2 linked regions of the Homo sapiens genome follow. The protein of the gene in region 2 purifies or fractionates together with the protein of the main gene of each other region. This does not show direct contact. Each region holds a gene or a part of one and is shown on either strand. Other genes may lie near its edges.

Region 1 (7,458 bases), on a different chromosome or scaffold from region 2:
CTCAAATTGACCTTGCCTGATGAGGGAAGTCAGAATTACATTGTTGGGGCAAAGACTGGAGTGTTGGAATTGAACCAGTCAACTCAAGAAACAGTAAAGCCTCTTAAAGAAAAAAAACAGAGGCTAAAAAACCACCGTTGAGATTGGGGTTGACAGCACAATAGAAAACTGCATGGCAGGCTTGGAGAAGACAGTTACCTTGATAAAAGATAAGATGCTAAGAGTCTAGGGGAGTGGGAGGAGTCTGAGTAAAAGTTTCGAAGAGTTTTCCGGACACCAGGAGAAGGAGCTGAGAAACTGGGGAATAAGGAAGGTAGAAGGGAAAGGATAAGAAACTAAGAAATGTGAAAGAGCTGAAGAAAAGGACTTGCAGGGAGATCAGAAATAACTATGTAGCTAGAAAATAAGGAAGCCAGAAGAGCACAGAGAGGGATCCAGACACTAGAGAATAATCCAAGATCAATGTCAAGTCAAAAGATGGAAAAACTGATTAAGGAAAAACACCACAAGAAATTCAACAAGAACGAATCAGGTTGAAATTCTAAAGAGACAGGAAAAGTCTGAGGTGATGAGGGAAGTGCTAGCAAGAATGTTAAAACCCATGAAAGCATGGAGGCTCAAGGAACCCAAGGAGAGTGGGATGGGGCAGGTAGGGGCAGTTTGATCCTGCGTCAGAGTTCCAAAGGGAAAGCTAGAACTGGGGAACGAAGCAGCAAGGTGACCTGAAAGCTCAGAATTGACGCAGGAGTCCCTCCAGGGGAAGGCGTAGAATTGGAGAAACCCTGGGCAACGTGATGGAAGCAACCACTTAACAACGGCTCAAGGGAAGAAAGAAAAAGTGAAAACCAAGAATAAGGAAGGAGCAACTGAATAGCTAGAGCATAAAGGCCTATGAATTGAAGAGATTGGCACAAAGCTGGAGAAACGGAGGGACTGCCAGAGAATGATGCGGGGACAGAAGGGTAACCACAGAAGAGGCTGAAGACTGGGGAGCAGGTGTAGTTGTCTGAATGGGTATGAAGGCTGAGCGCTAAACAAAAACAATCAGACAGTAAAAGCAGAGTTAAAGGAAAGTCAGCACTGTTGGCAGCTTGCTGCTGGGAGCGCCAAAGATACTGGAGGCATGGGGAAGGCAAGATGCGGAGGTGAAATTCTAACCTTGGCGTGGCCGTGCTTGCCAGTCTTCGAAGTAGACATCTCGACGATCTTACATGGCCGGCCTTTGAGCACCACAAAGCCATTCTTACGTAATGCTGAGCACTGCATTGGGAAGGTGGCTGAGGCCCCTGCATCTCCTGTCTCGAAGTCCAAGTCATCTGCCATTTTAAGAGGCTTCGATTCCAACTAGAGCCAAGAAGAGAACTGAAGTGAATAAGCATGGAGGTCAACAGGACCTCCAATCTATCCCATTTCTCTCCAGAAACATTTTCCCAACTCTTTATTCCATTACCCACCTAAAATAAAGTCAAAGTTCCTGAACTTAAAATACTGACTGGGCTCAAATATACTCAAGAACTGGTGTGTGTATGGGAGGGTGGAATAGCTGGTTTCTCCCCCATAAATCAAAGCTAAAGTGGTGGCTTGGGAAAGGAAGGCTCTAGGGAGCTGGAATGTCAAATCTCAGAGATGAGAAAAGGCCTACTTCCTGGGAGTGGGGAGGACTCAGGTGTTACTTGCCACTGAAACCAACCACCCCTCTTCCCCACATATAGCCAGGGCTATAATTAGGTGAGCAGCTATGATCCAGCAAAAGGGCAGGGCTAATTGGGGGGGGGGAGGGTGGAGACCGGAGGACAAGGCCCCACCCATCTGTTACACTGCCCCCCCCCATCCACACACAAACCAGTCACTGCTACAGGAAACCACAAGGCCTCTTTGGGGGATTCCCGCCTCGCCAACATGCACTTGCAACAAGCCAAGGGGGAGAAAGCAAAGTTGTTTCCGAAATGATCCCCCTGCCAAACACCTCGATCTTGGTTCCCAAAGAGAACCCAGGAACCCAGCCTCTCCTGGAAGGCCCTCCCACTTTTCCCAGGATGCATCTGTCCTGTCGGCTTTTCAGGCCGGGCCAGTACAGTCAGTAGAAAGTGGGAGAGGTGGGGGGTGGTGAATGACAATAAAATGAAAGCAAAAGGTTGGTAGTAGTGAGTAGTAGAAAATCATACTAGGCTAGTAGAGTTAAGGACTTCGAAACCGTGGAACTCCCAAACCAGTTACAACAGGAAGACAGTGACAAGGTGAAGAACGCCTATCACGGTGGGAAACTCATCTGCCTGAGGCTTTTAGGCGCTGTCCACCCAGGCCGACAGAAAAGTTGGGCTCCTGTCCAAACGCCCTGTTTCCCCATTTCTCCGGCCTCCCAGCTCGAAGGGGTGCCACTTACACCTGGCTGACCGCCACACTTCACAGGAGGGTTTTTCAGGAAAGCTCCTGGGGCCCTTGAGGTTGGGAAGCGCTAACATATGCCTGCAGCAGGCCCTCCGGGGTGATTAGGACCCGAGCCTCCGGCTTCCACTCCTCAAAATCTCAGGCCCCCTCGGAACCCCCGCGAGGACTAGCTCCCCGCGCTAGGGGCTGCCGGCTCCTGCCGACCATGTGGCCGTTCCGGGCTTCCGGTGGCCGGGACCTGGGGGGAGGGGTCCCCGCGCTGCCATGCGGCCCCGGTCCACGCTTGGCCATGCGGCCTGCGACCCCGAGGGCAGCCTCCCGTGGGGGGCACTTCCGGTGCCGCGGCCGCCCCCTCCTCAGAGACTGCGCCAGGCCGGAGCCACGCCGCCTCCCCTCCCCCCGGCCGTCCGCCAACCCCCCCCATCATGCCCTCTCACCGAATAGCCCCCTCCCCCACCTCACGTGGCCGCGCTGAGCCGGGTCCTCAACGGCCCAGGTACCCTTGCCCCGGTGGGCCGATCTGGCCCCTGGCCCTCGCCCCGGCGTGGCCGCCTGGCGGCCTCTCCCGCGTGGCTGCCTCGCGGCTCGCCGTCCCCCGCCCTGCGTCGCTCCAACGTCACCGGGCCAACCCCAACCGTCACCCCGCGCGCCAACCGGGGCGCGCGCCCGCGCCTCTCCTCACCTCGCGCCGCTCTCTGGCCGAACCCGTGCGGCGGCGGCCGCCGCTCCCCTCTGCCCCCTCCCCGACCCCCGCGCAGTTCCATCTTCTCCCGGGCCCAAGCCAAGGTACCGCGCACACGCGCCCTGCCCGCTCTCACCTCGCGCGAACGCACTGACTCGACCCCGTCCGCTCGCCGCGAGCCCAACCGCTGCCTCCGAGCCCGCTGCCGCCGCCGCCGCCGCCTCTACCGCCGCCGCCGCTGCTGCACACGGGTCTTAGTACGCAGGCGCCGACTCCCCACTGACCAACCAAGCAGCCCTATGACAGCCGCGCAAGCGTGCTATCTATCTCCTCCGCCCTCCACCCCCGCACTGCGCAAGCGCACACACCCTACCCATCTCCACCCTCCCTCCCACCGACCCGTCCAATGACGCGCATACGTGACCCCGCCCCTCACAAACCCTGAGCGTTTTCAACTAATCTGCAACGCGCAGGCGCACCCGGTTTTTTAATCTCTTCAACCTCATCTTCCCTCCCCTTGATAGACCGCTCGTCCTACCGGGCAGTCCTTGCGCCTGCGCAATAAGGAGCCCTGCACTCCACACCCTCTAAAGGAAACGCCTGGGTCTCAGAACGCATGCGTGTTCGGAATCCTAAACAACCCCTTCCACCTCAGACGCCGTCAGTACGCCAGGCGTTGAAAAGACCACGCCGCTAGATCACTTGTCTCGTCTAGAACGCATGCGTCTCAGGATACGCCCCACCTCGGCTTTAACTGGACTTAAACGACTCACACGTTTCAGAAAACTTGCTCTGTGGGGTGGGCGCCTTGTCTTGGAATCAGTCCCCCCAGTTCCACACATGCGCGGGAGATGTCTTTCCGCCCCACTCTTCTAGCGCGCTAGTGTGGTCGGGTTCCCACCCATCTCGGCTTCACTTCTCTAAATCGAATGCCTATGCTCTGCCATAGAGTTCACCCGAGAAGATAGAGCGGTCCTGCGGCGGACACCATCTTCTTTAAACCCTCAGTCCGTATTGGTCTCTATGGCATCCATAGAGGCCATTCGGCTCTGAGGTCCTCAGTAAAGAAACTTAGATGGTATTACTGTGTTTTCCCCAACTGTGCTCTGCGGTTCCCCAAAGTATTGTCTACGAGGTCCCTTAGAAAAAATTGTCTATAAAAATGAGTGGTGGGCCGGGCGCGGTGGCTGACACCTGTAATCTCAGCACTCTGGGAGGCCGAGGCGGGCGGATCACCTGAGGTCGGGAGTTCGAGACCAGCCTGACCAACATGGAGAAACCCCGTCTCTACTAAAAATACAAAATTAGCCGGGCGTGGCGGCGCATGCCTGTAATCCCAGCTACTCGGGAGGCTGGGACAGGAGAATCGCTTCTCCTGTGGAGGTTGCCGTGAGCCGAGATTGCGCCATTGCACTCCAGCCTGGGTAACAAGAGCGAAACTCAAGTCTCAAAAACATAAATAAATAATACATAAATAAAATAAAATAGTGGTAGGCCGGGAGCGGTGGCTCACGCCTGTAATCCCAGCACTTTGGGAGGCCGAGGCGGGCGGATCACAAGGTCAGGAGTTCAAGACCAGCCTGGCCAACGTAGTGAAACCCCCGTCTCTACTGAAAATACAAAAAAATTAGCCGGGCGTGGAGGTGGGCGCCTGTACCAGCTACTCGGGAGGCAGAGGCAGGAGAATCGCTTGAACCCAGGAGGCGGAGGTTGCAGTTAGCCGACATCGCACCACTGCACTCCAGCCTAGGAGACACAGCGAGAGACTCTGTCTCAAAAAAAAAAAAAAAAAAAAAAAAGTGGTATGTTAGATTACATTGACATTGTCTTAATCATAGGAGACCATGAAGCTGGAGACGAGCTATCTTCCCAACTTTATTTTCTTTGCCCTCCCTCTCTCCGCCCCCCATTTCGCTTTTCCTGAAACTTCGTAGTCTTCTTCCAATTCCTGGGTTTCTTGCACTACCTTCATGGCTGCCTTGTTGGATAACAAGACTGAAACAAGCGGCCAGGCGCAGTGGCTCACACCTGTAATCCCAGCACTTTGGGAGGCCAAGGCGAGCAGATCACTTGGGTCAGGAGTTCCAGACCAACCTGGCCAACATGGTGAAACCCCGTCCCCACTAAAAATACAAAAATTAGCCGTGCCGTGGTGGTGCGTGCCTGTAATCCCAGCTACTCGGGAGGCTGAGGCAGGAGAATCGCTTGAACCCAGAATGTGGAGATTGCAGTGAGCCGAGATCTCGCCAATGCACTCCAGCCTGCACGACAGAGCAATACGCCATCTCAAAAAAAAAAAAAAAAAAAAAAAGACAGAAACAAGCGACCAAAGATCTTGGGATCTCATCCTTCTTTTGTGTCTTTAAGGAATTACTTCAGATAGCTCTGCCTTAATTTTCTTCCCATAAAATGAGAATAATAATGATGCCTGAACTTCCCAATTTTTCAGGACGTTGCAAAAATTCTGCAACATGGGTTGGGCATAGTGGCTCATACCTGTAGTCTTAGCTTTTTGGGAGGTCAAGGTGGGAGGCTCCCGTGAGGCTAGCAGTTACAGACCAGACTGGGCAACATAACAACGGCCCATCTCTACAAATAAAAAATTAAAAAAACAAAAACAAGAAAAGCTCAGCTCAGTGGCTGGTGCCTGTAGACCTAGCTACTCTTTCTTGGGAGGCTGAGGTGGAGGGATAGCTTGAGTCTAGGAGTTCGAGGCTTCATTGAGCTATAATCCCCACCACTGCACTTGAGCCTGGGCAACAGAGAACCTGTTTCTTAAAAAAGAAAAAAAAAAAGTCTTGTGACACGATACATGTGAACTGCAAACACTAGATTGAATTACTACATTTGTGTAGCCTGTTATGCTAACCCCCAGCTACTTCCCCTCAATTTTCTGAAATTCATGCCCTTTCCTTTGTAAAAAAAAAAAACAAAAACAAAAACAAAAAAACGCAAACAACTTTGTGAGTACATTGTTCAAAAGTCCAACACCTGCTTTTCTCAAAGCAAAGTATGTATTGTTCATGTGACCCAGCAATTCCACTCCAACGTATATATACTCCCAATGAATTAAAAACAGGTACTCAAAGAAAATCCGGGCCGGGTGCGGTGGCTCACGCCTGTAATCCCAGCACTTTGGGAGGCCGAGGCGGGCGGCTCATGAGGTCGGGAGATGGAGACCATCCTGGCTAACACGGTGACACCCCGCCTCTACTAAAAATAAAAAAATTAGCCGGGCCTGGTTGTGGGCGCCTGTAATCCCAGCTATTTGGGAGGCTGAGGCAGGAGAATGGCAAACCTGGGAGGTGGAGCTTGCAGTGAGCTGAGATCTCGCCACTGCACTCCAGCCTGGGCAACAGAGCAAGACTCCATCTCAAAAAAAAAAAAAAGCAAATCCGGGCATGTGAGTGTTCATTAGCAGCAGTTATTCACAGTAGCAAAAAAGGTGGAAAGAACCCAAATGTCTGTCAATAGATGAATGGATTTTTAAAATGTGGTATATCTATACAGTGGAATATTATTTAGCCATAAAAAGAGATGAAGTACGTGCTATAACTGGATGAATATTGGAAAACATTATGCTAAGTGAAAAAAGTCAAGATGCAAAAGGTCACATATTCTATGATTCCACTCTTAGAAAACATCTAGAATAGCCGGGCGCAGTGGCTCACGCCTGCAATCCCAACACTTTGGGAGGCTGAGACGGGTGGATCACCTGAGGTCGGGAGTTTGAGACCAGCCTGACCAACATGGAGAAACCCCATCTCTACTAAAAATACAAAATTAGCCTAGTGTGGTGGCGCATGCCTGTAATCCCAGCTACTCAGGAGGCTGAGGCAGGAGAATAGCTTGAAGCAGAGGTTGCAATGAGCCGAGATCATGCCGTTGTGCTCCAGCCTGGGCAACAAGAGCAAAACTCCATCACACACACACAAAAATTAACCAGGCGTGGTCATATGTACATGTAGTCCCAGCTACTGGGGAGGCTGAAGCAGGAGGATTGCCTGAGCTTAGGAGTTCAAGGCTGTAGTGAGCTGTGATCACACCACTGCACTCCAGCCTGGGTAACAGAGTAAAACCCTGTCAAAAAAAAAAAAAGAAGAAAAGAAAAAAACAGAAATGTTGTACATAAATGTTCAAAGCAACATTATTACTTTTTTTTTTTTTTGAGACGGATTCTTGCCCTGTCACTCGAGCTGGAGTGCAGTGGCACGATCTAGCTCACTGCAACCTCCGCCTCTCGGGTTCAAGCGATTCTCCTGCCTCGGCCTCCTGAGTAGCTGGGATTACAGGCACCTGCCACCACGCCTGGCTAATTTGTCTATTTTTAGTAGAGACGGGGTTTCATCATCTTGGCTAGGCTGATCTTGAACTCCTGACCTCGTGAT
Region 2 (7,662 bases):
GATCGCACCATTGTACTCCAGCCTAGGCAACAGGGCAAGACTCAGTCTCAAAAAAAAAAAAAAAAAAAAAAAGGTTAAACATAGAATTGCCACATGACACAGCAGTAACACTCCTAGGTATCTACCCAAGAGAAACAAACATGTAACATCCACGCAAAAACTCACACACCTATGTGCATAGCAGCTTTATTCATAACATCCACAAAGTGCACACAACCCAAATGTACATCCACAGATGAAGGGAAAATGCTCCATTCATACAATGACACGGTGTTTTGCAATATGAGGCAATGAGGCTCGGACACAGGCTACAGATTGGATGAACCTCGAAAGCATCATGCCCAGTGAAAGAAGCCAGATACAAAAGACCACATAGTGAGTGATTCCATTGATACGAAATGTCCAGATAAGCAAATCCATAGAGACAGGAAGTGGATTAGTGGTTGCCAAGGGCTGGGAGAGGGGGATCAGGAGTGACTGGAATGGACTTTATTTTGGGGGGTTGATGGATATGTTCTAAAATTGATGTGATGGCCGTGAGCTGTGGCTCACACCTGTAATCCCAGCACTTTGGGAGGCTGAGGCGGGCAGATCACTTGAGGTCAGGAGTTCAAGATCAGCCTGGCCAATCTGGTGAAACCCCATCTCTACTAAAAATACAAAAATGAGCCGGGTGTGCTGGCGCGCACCTGTAGTCCCAGCTACTCGGGAGGCTGAAGCAGGGGAATCACTTGAACCCGGGAAGTGTAGGTTGCAGTGAGCCCAGATCATGCCACCACACTCCACCTTGGGTGTCAAAGCAAGACTCCGTCTCGGAAAAAAAAAAAAAAAATTTATGTGATGATGGCTGCCCGACTCTGAATATACTAAACACCACTGAATTATCACTTTACACAGATGAATTGTACAGTATGTAAACTATATCTCAATACAGCTGTTATTTAAAAAGTTCTTGCCCGGCGCAGTGGCTTGCGCCTATAATCCCAGTGCTTTGGGAGGCCAAGGAGGGCGGATTATGAAGTCAAGAGATCGAGACCATCCTGGTCAACATGGCGAAACCTCATCTCTACTAAAAATACAAAAATTAGCTGAGCGTGGTAGCACGCGCCTGTAATCCCAGCTTCTCGGGAGGCTGAGGCAGGAGAATCCCTTGAACCCGGGAGGCGGTGGTTGAAGTGAACCGAGATTGCACCACTGCACTCCAGAAAAAAAAAAAAAAATCCCCTTTGGAGCTGAGTTAAGGAGAAAAGAGAACAGGGAAAAGGAGGAGGCAAGAGGTTACAGTTTCAGATGCAGTGCTCGGGGATGCTCTTATTGCAAAGATGATGTTTTAATAAAGATCTGAAAGAGGAGCTGGGCGCAGTGACTAACGGCTGTAATCCCGGCACTTTGGTAGGCCGAGGTGGGCAGATTACTTGAGGTCAGGCCTTCAAGACCAGCCTGGCCAACATGGTGAAACCTCATCTCTACTAAAAATACAAAAATTAGCCGGGCATGGTAGCAGGCCCCTGTATTCCCAGCTACTCGGGAGGCTGAGGGAGGAGAATCGTTGGAACCCGGGAGGCAGAGGTTGCGGTGAGCTGAGATCGCGCCACTGCACTCCAGCCTGGGCAACACAGCAAGACTCTGTCTCAGAAGAATAAAATAAAAGGAGAGGAGAGGGAGATTCTAACACAGAAACACAGAGACAGACACACAGGGGTCAAGGCCAGGTGATGACAGTGGCAGAGATTGGAGTGACGAAGCCACAAGCTGAGAAACACCAAGGACTGGCGGCCACCCCCAGAAGCTGGAAGAGGCAGGAAGGATCCTCCCCTGGAGCCTCCAGAGAGGCCACAGATCTGCAGATACCTGGATTCCAGACTTCCGCCCCCCAGGGACTTGCTCAATCCCAGAGGACCCACCGAACAGAAGACGCAGACTTGGTTCTTCTGTGCTATCAGTTTCTCGAAGGTCTACAGAGGCCAGATGCCAAGTTCTCTGACTTACACAGGCCTTGCTTTTGGCTGAGGCTTCGATATCTGCGTCCTGCACCCTGGGATTATCTCCTCCTGGGGAGCATCCTTGGGGCCAGTCACACCTGGCACCCTGCCCTCGTAGCCTTCCTGAGTCAGCACAGCTCCTGGTCCACGGGAAGTCCTCCGTAAACAGCCTGAGCCACAAACATGTTGAGATGACGTCCTCGCAAGGCAGCTGAGGGCTGCAGTGATGCCTGTTATCTGCAGTCAGTTTTCCAACACATAGGAAGGCAATACAATAATTTAAAAAAAAAAAGGGGGGGTGGGCCGTGCACGGTGGCTCACGCCTGTAATCCCAGCACTTTGGGAGGCCGAGGCGGGCGGATCACGAGGTCAGGAGATCGAGACCATCCTGGCTAACACGGTGAAACCCCGTCTCTACTAAAAATACAAAAAAATTAGCTGGGCTTGGTGGTGGGCACCTGTCGTCCCAGCTACTTGGGAGGCTGAGGCAGGAGAATGGCGTGAACCCAGGAGGCGGAGCTTGCAGTGAGCTGAGATCGCCCCATTGCACTCCAGCCTGGGTGACAGAGCGAGACTCTGTCTCAAAAAAATAAAAGTGGGGGTGTCAGCTCCATGAGGCCAGACACTGTGTCTGTTTTGTCCTGTGTCCTCTGTGCCCAGGACACTATCCTCTGTGCTCAGGACACTGTCCAGCACACAGTAGTTGCTCAATAAGTATTTGTGAATGTTGTCTTAAAATAGAAGTTGGCCTTCCAAAAGGATTTCTTTGCTATGCACAGCATTTTATGTTTTTTCATTAATTTTTATTTAATTATTTTTTTGAGATGGAGTCTCACTCTGTCACCCAAGCTGGAGTGCAGTGACGCGATCTTGGCTCACTGCAACTTCCGTCTCCTGGGTTCAAGTGATGCTCCTGCCTCAGACTCCTGAGTAGCTGGAATTACAGGCACCCGCCACTAGGCCAAGCTAATTTTAGTATTTTTAGTAGAGATGGGGTTTCAGCATGTTGGCCATGCTGGTCTTGAACTCCTGACCACAAGTGATCCACCTGCCTTGGCCTCCCAAAGTGCTGGAATTACAGGCGTGAGCTACAATGCCCAGCCATGTTTTTTTATTAATTGCTCATTTTTTTTTTTTTTTTGAGATGGGGTCTTGCTCTGTCACCCAGGCTGGAATCCAGTGGTGTGATTACAGCTCACTGGATCCTTGAACTCCTGGACTCAAGCTATCAAGCCACCTGAGTAGCTGGGCCTACAGGCATGAGCCACCAGGCACAGTTGATTTTTTTTTTTTTTTTTTGGAAATGGAGTCTTGCTCTGTTGCCCAGGCTGGAGTGCAGTGACAGGATCTCAACTCACTGTAACCTGTGTCTCCCAGGCTCAAGCGATTCTCCTGCCTCAGCCACCCAAGTAGCTGGGATTACAGGCTGAGCCACTGCGCCCAGCCAAATTAAAAAAAATTTTTTTTCTGTTGAGACGGGGGCTTACCACATTGCCCAGGCTGGTCTTGGAATCTTGGGCTCAATCGATCATCCTCTCACCCCACAGCCTCCCAAAGTGCCAGGATTACAGGTATGAGCCACCACTCCTGGCAGTCACCCACATTTTAAAAATAAGAGATTGCAAGCAGGGCACAGTAGCTCACGCCTGTAATCCCAGCACTTTGGGAGGCCAAGGCAGGTGGATCACCTGAGGTCAGGAGTTTGAGACCAGCCTGGCCAACATAGTGAAACCCTGTCTCTACTAAAAATACAAAAAGTTAGCTGGTGTGGTGTTGCATGCCTGTAATCCCAGCTACTCGGGAAGCTGAAGCCTTTTTGTATTTTTAGTAGAGATGGGGGTTTCACCATGTTGGCCAGGCTGGTCTCGAACTCCTGACCTCAAGTGATAACACCCACCTCGGCCTCCCAAAGTGTTGGGATTACCGGTGTGAGCCACCGTACCCGGCCTCTTTCAGGTCTTTCTTCAGATGTCACCACCTCAGATTCTGGCCACCCTTCCTGAAACTGCACACCCTATACATACACCGCCCTTGGCTACCGAATTTTTTCTCGTTAGCCTTTTTCACCATCTAATAGGTATTGCATTTACTTATCGTGTTATTTTCTGTCTCTATAACAACACTGGGAGGCGTACGAGGGTAAGGGCTGAAGGCTCTCTTGTCCTCAAGGCCATGTACTATTTATTACATACATGAATGAATGAACGACTGCATTTCTTCCTTTTTTTATTCCTCACCTACTTAAGGTTCGAGCTCCCTGAGCCCATTGGCCAACACCTCTGGAGTCTGACCACGCCTAGAAACACTGCGCATGCTCCGTTGCTAGCCAGCCCAGGCAGGGCGCTGAATCGGCACAAACCAGTCTCACTTCTTGTACCGCAGTGGGGAGGTTGGAGAGAATTTTTTCCCATGAAAGGGCATACGTTGCCCGTCCCCTTCCCCGAAGAACGCACTAGGAATACTGTTCCTGCGTTTGCATGAGCTGTGGCACCAGCACCGACTCAGCCTTCCGGGCCTCCCTCATGCACGGAGCCTCTCACTAGGTCTCACCCGCGGCTGCGTTGGTGCCGTCCGGCACGGTCACGTGGGCGAGAAAATGGCGGCCCCCAGACCGCACTGCGGGCGTCGCGGCAGGTGAAGCGGTGGTGGCAGAGGCGCCTGCGGTTACTGGCCGGGCCGACGGGTCCTGAGTCTCCAGAGCTCGGTGAGGCGTCCCGGAGGCGGCGATCACGGTGTGGGGCCCGGGTCTGGCGGGCGGTGGCACCGGGAGCGCCTCGTTAGGGAATCCGGTCTCAGGGATTCGTTGACTGTGGATGGGGCGGGTTAAGGGGTCTCGAGTCCCGGCGATCTCTTTCCTCTGGGATTTTTTACATGAAAGAGTGCCCACCTCACGTCCTGAAGCTCCTATGTCGTACGGTTGGGTCTCAATGGTCCCCAGTGCCCTGCCAGCTCGCACAGGCCTGCCCTCTGGTTTCTGATGACCCCTCTTTAAAGGTGTCACTCTCCTTTGATGGTCACCTGTGCTTAGGTGGCTACACTGCCCTCGTCAAGCCCAGGCAGCCTTGCTGACGCCACTGTTCACCAGAGAGGGCTGCCAGCATGCCATAGCCAGCCTGTCTTGAGATGAAGCATCCGCCAGGTTCTCAGCCGATCTGGAAAGAGAGGGGTCCCTTCTCCCCTTGGCTGTGTTCTTTTATCCTAAGTCATTCAACAAAGCGTTGGTGGTTTAGAGCCCGACTCTGGAGCCAGACTTCCTGGATTCCTAACTCTTCACGCTGCTCCCAAGCAAGTTCCCAAGCACAGTCCCAAACTGTGCCTCAGTTTCCTCACCTGTAAAATGGGGACAATCTTAGTAACTACCTCACAGGGTAGTGATGTAGATCGAATGAATTAATGAATGTAAAGAGCATGGAGTGCCTGGCGCGTAGCAAATGCTACATAAGTGTCAGCTGCTATTGTCACGGTTGTCGTTTTTATTTTATTTATTTATTTTGAGACAGGGTCTTGCTTTGTAGCTCAGTCTGGAATGCAATGGCACGATCTCGGCTCACTGCAACCTCCGCCTCTCGAGTTCAGGCGATTCTCCTACCTCAGCCTCCCGAGTAGCTGGGATTACAGGCGCCCACCACCACGCCCAGCTAATTTTTGTATTTTTAGTAGAGATGGGGTTTCACCATGTTGGTCAGCTGGTCTCGAACTCCTGAACTCAGATGGTCTGTCCACCTCGGCCTCCCAAAGCGCTGGGATTACAGGCGTGAGCCACCGCGCCCAGCCGGTTATTGTTTTTATTGAGGCCCTACTGCGTGCAGGTCATTGCACTAAGTGCTGGGAATACAACAGTGACCAAGATAGACTCAGTCCCAGCCTTCAGAGTTCTATTCTAATGAGGGATAAGACCAATCACAAGCAACTAAACCAATACTTTCCAATATGATATCTAGGAGTCTTAGGCGCCGTGGAGAAAAATAAAGCTGAATAAGTGAAAAGAGATGGAAGAGTAACATTGTCCATTGTGATCAGGGAAGGCTTCCATGAGGAAGTGATGTTGGAGACCCAGGAAAGCAAGAGGATGAGCACGGGTGTTCCTGGACCAAACTGAGGGTCGGGCTGCTATTTCTCATGGTCCAATAACGAGATGCAGATTAACTGGGGAGGAAGAGAGTTTTTATTTCTGTAACCGGTTACAGGGAGAAGGCCTGGAAAATATCGCCAGACCAACTCAAAATGACAAAGTTTTCCAGAGCTTATATACCCTCTAAGCTCTCCATCTACATGTAACTGAGCATCCATCTAAAGACTTAAAGTGACTAACTTCTTTTAATCTATAACTAAGATCTGAATCCTGAAGACTTTCCTTTGGAACCTCAGTAAATTTACTTAATCTAAATGGGTCCAGGTGCTGGGGTGATCACCCTTATCTCATCTCCAGTGGGTCCAGGTGCTGGGGTGATCATCCTTATCTTGTCTCCTGCTAAATCATGGAGGTTTGGGGAGTTCTTCAGACACCCAGTAAAACTTGTTTCATCCTAAACGGGTCACATTAAGAATTCCTTCGTTATTGGCTGGGTGTGGTGGCTCAAGCCTGTAATTCCAGCAGTTTGGGAGGCTGAGGCGGGTGGATCACCTGAGGTTGGGAGTTCGAGACCAGCCTGACCAACATGGAGAAACCCTGTCTCTACTAAAAATACAAAATTAGCCGGGCATGGTGGTGCATGCCTATAATCCCAGATACTCGGGAGGCTGAGGCAGGAGAATCACTTGAACCCTGGAAGCATAGGTTGTGGTGAGCCGAGATAATGCCACTACACTCCAGCCTGGGCAAAAGAGCGAAACTCTGTCTCAAAAAAAAAAAAATTCCTTCATTATCTTGTCATGCCTTAAGGCCCAGGAAAGGCCTGGGCAAAACTCTTCATGGGCTTTTGTTACATTCCAGCCTTTGTATGAGGGCACTGGCTCTTTTAGCTTTTAATGTTTAACTTAACCACTCAGTCAGTGCTGAAACAGTTATGGAGGCCTGTGTTAGTGAGGCCTGGCCTGCTACGTGGGGACATCTAGGGAAGAATGTTCCTCATGGAGATCACAGCAAATGCAAAGGCCCTAGGGCTGCACTGGGCCTGGCGTGTTGGAGGAACAGCGAGGAGGCCTGTGTGGCTGGAGTGGAGCTAGAGAGGGAAGAGGTGATGGGAGATGGTCATGAAGGGCCTTTGGGACTGTCAAGTAGTTGAGTGAGGAGGCATAGGAGGATTTTAAGCAAGGGAGTGATATGGTCCAGTTTACATATTGAAAGTACTTCTGAATCTGTTATCTAAGCTGTGTAACAAAAATCCCCATAATGGCTGGGGGTAGTGGCTGATGCCTGTAATCCTAATGCTTTGGGAGGCTGAGGCAGGATGATCACTTGAGCTTGGGAGTTGGAGACCAGCCTGGGCAACATAGAAGTGAGACCCCATCTCTACAAATAATAAAAAAAAAATTAGCTGGGCATGCTGGTGTGTGCCTGTAGACACAGCCACTAGGAAGTCTGAGGCAGGAGGATCACTTGAGACTGGGAGTTCGAGGCTACAGTGAGCCGTGATCATGCTGCCGTACTCCAGCCTGGCGACAGAACAAGATCCTGTCTCAAAAACAAACAAAAAAACATACTTGGTTACCTTCAACAACAGTAAACAGTGTCGCACAC

Evidence for each region. Proteins that work in one complex are often made in the same cells at the same time.
Region 1: the proteins of DOHH (region 2) and EIF5A purify together in Homo sapiens (affinity purification with mass spectrometry; 3 studies listed by BioGRID and IntAct, with this or other methods). This does not show direct contact.

What each region holds. Positions count from the first base shown.
Region 1 is NC_000017.11:7,303,501-7,310,958, reverse strand, and holds the start of EIF5A (eukaryotic translation initiation factor 5A-1), read right to left. Parts: upstream 3,332-7,458; 5' UTR 3,207-3,331; intron 2,991-3,206; exon of another isoform or gene 2,826-2,990; intron 2,587-2,825; exon of another isoform or gene 2,384-2,586; intron 1,989-2,383; exon of another isoform or gene 1,844-1,988; intron 1,345-1,843; coding exon of another isoform or gene 1,324-1,344; coding exon 1,159-1,323; coding exon of another isoform or gene 672-1,158; exon of another isoform or gene 1-671. UniProt on the Homo sapiens protein: Translation factor that promotes translation elongation and termination, particularly upon ribosome stalling at specific amino acid sequence contexts.
Region 2 is NC_000019.10:3,497,585-3,505,246, reverse strand, and holds the start of DOHH (deoxyhypusine hydroxylase), read left to right. Parts: upstream 1-4,572; 5' UTR 4,573-4,686; exon of another isoform or gene 4,687-5,312; intron 5,313-6,240; exon of another isoform or gene 6,241-6,508; intron 6,509-7,633; exon of another isoform or gene 7,634-7,662. UniProt on the Homo sapiens protein: Catalyzes the hydroxylation of the N(6)-(4-aminobutyl)-L-lysine intermediate produced by deoxyhypusine synthase/DHPS on a critical lysine of the eukaryotic translation initiation factor 5A/eIF-5A.